Linked DNA regions of Homo sapiens: region 2 is linked to region 1. The links come from fine-mapping of genetic effects on gene expression. A gene starts in region 1. The other region holds a variant in brackets. All regions are shown on one strand. Distances are from middle to middle.

What was found. PIP is the estimated chance that this variant, and not a neighbour inherited with it, causes the effect.
Region 2: its variant is the best candidate, but not a certain one, in a credible set for the expression of TLCD4 in left ventricle (GTEx, PIP 0.77).

What each region holds. Positions count from the first base shown.
Region 1 is chr1:95,116,148-95,119,055 of GRCh38, reverse strand. It overlaps TLCD4 (TLC domain containing 4), which reads right to left and starts at 1,701. Exons shown (of 7, transcript NM_152487.3): 1 at 1,439-1,701. It overlaps TLCD4-RWDD3 (TLCD4-RWDD3 readthrough), which reads right to left and starts at 1,133. Exons shown (of 8, transcript NM_001199691.1): 1 at 965-1,133. RefSeq lists silencers at 1,211-1,260, 1,341-1,620, 1,548-1,694.
Region 2 is chr1:94,945,433-94,948,340 of GRCh38, reverse strand. The region is part of intron 2 of CNN3-DT (CNN3 divergent transcript); the gene reads right to left. Among named protein-coding and RNA genes, the nearest start is that of CNN3, 20 kb to the right of the region's middle. The variant T/C (reference allele first, on the strand shown) is at 1,483.

The DNA of each region.
Region 1 (2,908 bases):
GGGTCAGAGGCATCCAGCCTAAACAGATAAAATTCATCTCAAGGATGAGGACAGTAAAGATTCAAACTCCAGAGGGAGGTAATGGGACAAAAGGAGTTGCAGGCGTAGAAAAAAAAAGAAGCACCCTCAAAATATTCTCTGGGTTATCAGATGGCACAGGAGGGGCGTGGCAAATAAACTAAAATCCATGGTTCTTCACCCATTCTTTCATATTTTCTAACACGGCGGGAATACACTTTTCTAATTTCGTTTCGCCCAATTTAAGGAAAAGATAAGCAAGGATAAAAATTCCTCATATATAGCACAATTAAAAGGGAGCTGGGATTCTCTAACTTATTACCTTAATCGGCTACACAAAGATGAAGCTACATTTCAATCGACACCATGCGCTGGCACGGGAGTAACTCACTTAAAACACCACAATCCAAGGTCAATTTTTCTCAACTCCATTTATGACTGCGTAAAGATTTTATTAAATCTTTTTTCCTATTTCACACATCAATTCCTAGGGTCCACACAAACTCTTCCATCTTCTCCAAACTGGTATTTGGATTAAACATTATCCAAGATCAGTCTTTAAAGTAAATTTCATAATTTCATATAAAAGTGTGCACCACATTAACACTCAAATGTGTGTACAATTAAAAATATACAGACCAGCAACAGCGACTCTTAAATGAATTTAGACTCAAAGTGTTTTCACAGAGGTTTTTCTGCCGTCTTGGAGGGGTAGGAAACTGCTGGCATTACGAATCCCATTTCATGGCTGGGTAAACCGAGGCACTTAGGGGTTACAGAGGTAAAGATGGAAATAGAAACCAATTTCTCCCTCCGACTCTACGCCTGGTCCCTTCCCACTAGACTTTTCAGCACTCAGTGGCTAAAAATGGGACCCACTTGAGAACTGCAAGGGTAAATAAGAGCTACTTGTTTCAGAAGGTGGCGGCGGGGGAGGGGGACTTACCCACTTGATGCGCCCGATTGTGTGTGGGCTCTAACAAGAAAGCTCTCCCTGGATGCCCAAAGGTTTGCACCCACCCGCTTTAAGCTCAGACCCGAGAGGCACCGCCAGGCAGACAGGGCAGCCGGAATCGTGCAGCCCGAGAAACGCGAGAGGAATGCGGGGCGCCCGGGCGGCGCGGGGGCCGCGGGCCCCGGGACACCATTTGCTCCCGGAGCGACGCCGTGGCCCGCCGGGCGGGGACGATGCTGAGCCTTCCGCACACACCTGCCGGAGCCCGCCCGGGAGCCCCGGGCCGCCTCCCGCGCGCCGGACGCCCACCCAGCCTCCAGGCGCAGGAGCTCTCGGCCGCGCTAGGCCAGGGGCGGGAAGCCGCGGCACCCCTCTCCGCGGGCTGCGCTTGGCGGCTGGCGCGGGGGAGCCGCGGGGCGAGGCAAGCCCGCCTTCCTCCCCAACCCCCCCTCCAAACGGCGTCACCTGTGCCGGGTCCCGGGGCGAGTCGCGCGCGGGCGGCGGCTGCGCCGAGCCGGGAGAGGGCGGCGGGTGTCTACAGGAGTCTGCTCATCCGGGCCGGCCCGAGGGCTGGCGCTGGCCAGTGCCGCCCGGTGAGATGCTCACGGGAGCCAGGGAAGCCGCGGGTTCCGGGCCGCTTGGAGGTGCAGTCGCGGAGGCTCCAGCTACCGCGGCGGCCGTCGCGCCCGCCCGGACTGCGGGCTCGGGTTACCGCAGAGCTGCTCCTTAAAGGGGCCGCGGCCGCTCGGGCTCCGGCTCCCGCTCCGGGCGGCTCCGACCCTGGCCAAAGTGGGCGGGGCCCCGAGGCGGGCCGCCGAGCAGACCTTCTTGCCCTGGAACTTGGGTCCCGGAAAGAGCCCAAAAACCCTAACACCCGAAGTCGCAGCGGAGAGATCCTGGAAGCTCACACCTTGCCAAGGGCAGAGGGTGCAATTCCCGGGTTTTCCAAAGCAAGTCACAAAACTTGCCAGCGGGGGAACTGTGTGAGCCCGCCCCCGCAGCGGTCAGTACCTGGGCTAGCCACGTAACAAAAAATCTTCTTAAATTATGAATTTACATTCTGCCTTAAATGCTCAAATACTGGGGACTTCATGGTTAGATCATCAGAAAAGAGATGAAAAGGCAACTGCTGGTTTTTCTTGCCACGTCTGACACGGCCACACTCGAGTCCCGCCAGTTCTTCTTTGGGGCTGCAGGTGCATACCAAACTGGTAGGGGGCGCGTGTAGAAGAAGCGTGTTCTCTCCAGCACCACCTCCAGAATTCCTGAAAAACACCCTCATGGGTGCACCAGCACTACACCTACACCCGGAACCCCTCTGTTGTCGGGGTGTGGAAGTTGGATTTGAATATTTGGTGCTGGCTGAGAATTCCAAGTTGCCTAGTAGATAAAGTTTGACATTAAATAGATGTTCTGACCTGTTATATACAGCCCCAAAAGCCTCCAAGTGATCTGCATCAACCAGAGATAATTGTCTGAAACAAAACAAAATAACAAAGAGGTATACTCATGCATTATAATTCGCAGAGAGCAATCACAAGGCCTTTTCTTGAAAAGAGGTAAGTTCTAAATAAATAATTTGTAAACACTATCATTGATAACAGGATATTTATTTCTAAGAAATGTCAATAGAGCTAACATATTTGATCTACTATATACATGCGCAGAAAGACACACATATCTGCCGCAGATTTAGACCAGAAAATATATACACAAAAGCTCATATAAGCTGTCCATGTTTATTTTCAAGAGAGGGCAATAGAATTTAAATCAGAACCTGGAATTCTGTCAGTTTATTAGAGTTGTGTGCCTTTAGCTAACTGAACCTCACTGAGGCTCAATTTCTTCATCTTTAAAATGGTAATAATAATTCATAGTGACTCTGAAGACCTGGACTGATGTGGAAAAGACAAAATCTATACCACAGAACAGGGA
Region 2 (2,908 bases), 170 kb after region 1:
CCCGTCTCTACTAAAAATACAAAAAATAAGTCGGGTGTGGTGGCGGGCACCTGTAGTCCCAGCTACTTGGGAGGCTGAGGCAGGAGAATGGCATGAACCTGAGAGGCAGAGCTTGCAGTGAGCCGAGATCGTGCCACTGCACTCCAGCATGGGCAACAGAGCGAGCCTCCGTCTAGAAAAAAAAAAAAAAAGCAAATCTTTCATTTTATAAAGATTTTTTTTTTTTTGAGACAGAGTCTTGCTCTGTCACCCAGGCACAGTGGCGCAATCTTAGCTCACTGCAACCCCTGACTCCTGGTTTCAAGCAATTCTCCCTGCCTCAGTCTCCTGAGTAGCTGGGATTACAGGTGCACACCACCACGCCTGGCTAATTTTTGTATTTTTGGTAGAGACGGGGTTTTGCCATGTTGGCCAGCCTGGTCTTGAACTCCTGAGTTCAGGTGATCTGCCTGCCTTGGCCTCCCAAAGTGCTGGGATTACAGGCGTGAGCCACCATGCCCGGCCAAAAAGATTTAATAAAATGATACTTCTTTCCAGCTGGTTAAATTTAAAACACTGGAAAAAAAAGTTTCATGCAAGACTGTTCTCCAAGTCTGGGCCAGAGCAGTTTCATTTGAGAGTGAGCTGATTGCGTTGGTATTTAACTCACAGCCACAAGCATTTGTCCACACAGGGGAGAGAAGCAGGCCCTTGTAGCCCTCCTGATTTGCCTGACAGTGCCATGAAGACTGCTGCTGTATTATTGCTGCTGGCCCTTCCCTTAGTGCTGACAGATTTCAGGGAAGAGCTGTGCCAAAACTGTTAGTATTTTCCTCTTCAGTTCTCAAATTAAGACATTTCTTGATCTCCTCATGACTCCACCTTCTCTGTTTTTTTGAGGGAATTTGGAGGCCTACATTCTATAACTGGCAAAAAATGATGGAGACAGATAGCAAATGCATCCAGCTGCAGAAGGAGGCAATACATTAAGTCAAATCAGTATTTATTTACTGAGCATTGGTACTACCTAAACCCTGGGTCGGGAATAAAAAAGTAAAATGTGACCCTTGCCCTCCAGGAGCATATAATGAGTTTGTATTAGACAAGACGTTTTGGTATCAGGGAACAGAAGGCCACTTGGGCTGGCTTATGCAAAGCCAGGAATTTATTATACACAAGGGAAGGAAAGCTTCTGCGTCTCAATGAGGGATAAAACCCAAGAACTGGATGCTAACAGGAACCAGTGTTGCTCTCCTTGTCTCTTGGAGGCCCCAAGTCTCTCACAGCTGCTTTTATTCTGAGCCTCAACTTCGTGCTCACTTCCTGGAGATCAGTTTTATCTGTGGAGATGAGCAGAGGCTGCTTGTTGTACCTATGATGTCACTGTTCCCCTTTTTCTCTGAAAAGAGAGTTTTAGCTGAACACTTGGCCACTCAGCTGACAGATGCACTTCCAAGCTTCCCTTGCTGTTAATTGTAGGCATTTACTAGGCTTTAGCCAATG[T/C]GATATGGGCAGAAATGATATGTACAACTTCCAGGTTACACTCTTAAATAGAAAGGAATGGGCGCCTCCTTTCCTCTTTTTCCCTCCTTGCTGCCTGGGTGTGAATAAGATGGCAGGAGTTGAAGTAATTGTCTTTAACCTAGCAATAGAATTACAGGTGGAGAATGGCAGAGCAACAAGGTGAAAGGAGCCTGGGTCCCCAACTCCATGGAGCTAATGTGATTATTAGCCCTGACCCAACTGCTTAGCCTCAGACTCTTATATAAGAGGGAAACATAGATCTCATTTGAGCTAGTATTATATTGGGATTTTATTGAGGAAGCCAGAACCTGCAACCTAACTTTTAAACCTGCTTTCTCTGTTTTTCTACGTATAAGATTGCTCTAAATTTATAAGACCTCAGTTTAAGTGACCAAACAAGAAATTCAACTTCAAATACCCAGGTAAGAGGATCGATTGGGGCATCTTCAGACTTCTAATCAGCTAAACTTAGAGGGGAGGGTAAAAGAATACAAGCCTAGCTACGGGGGCTACTGTGGGTGGGGGTAAAGTTGGGGGGTCATTTTCAGCGGGGGGTCATTTTCAGCGGAGGGTCATCTACTTTATTGACCATGCTTCTATATTGAGACCCACCATTCTTAGAGGTATTTGTGTAATTATTTTAGAAGGAAATTATGTATAATGTGTAAAAGCCAAGCCTATGCATTAAATGGAATAGTGAGTGAAAAGGAAATTTCAGAAATTGGAAGAGAAACTGACATCTCTCTGTCAATTAATAAAGTCTCCTGTGAGTGTGAAGATAGACTGGCTGGCTAGGTGGTGACCTTGTTTTCCCACACAGATCTTCCAAAGCTGCTTGGTCTGTCAGAGAAGATGACAGTCACAAATAAAGAAGAAAGGCTCTTTAGTATTCGGAGCTGTGTTTTCCTGCTAGATCCGCAAAACAGACATAATTAGTGTGTTTATATGAGATCTGTTTAGTAGCTAGGAGAGAGTTTGAGAAAAAAGGAAGGTGTCTTCGTCACCTTCCTGTTTTAACAAAATAACATAGACTGGGTGCTTATAAGCAACAGAAATTTATTTCTCACAGTTCTAGAGGCTGAAAGTTCAAGCTTAGGATGGTTGGGTTCTGGTGAGGACCCTCTTTCTGGCTCGCAGACTGATGACTTATTTTTGTATCCTCACATGGAGTAGAGAGAGCAAGCTAGCTCTCTGATCTCTTCTTATAAGGGCACTAATCCCATTCATTAATGAGGGCTCCATACTCATGACCTAATAAGGTCCCACCTCCAAATACCACCATACTGGGGATTAGATTTCAACATATGAATTTCTGGAGGACACAAAAATTTAGTCTGTCACATTCTGCTCATGGTCCTGAAAACTTATGTCCTTCTCAAATGCAAAATACACTTGGTCATTCCAT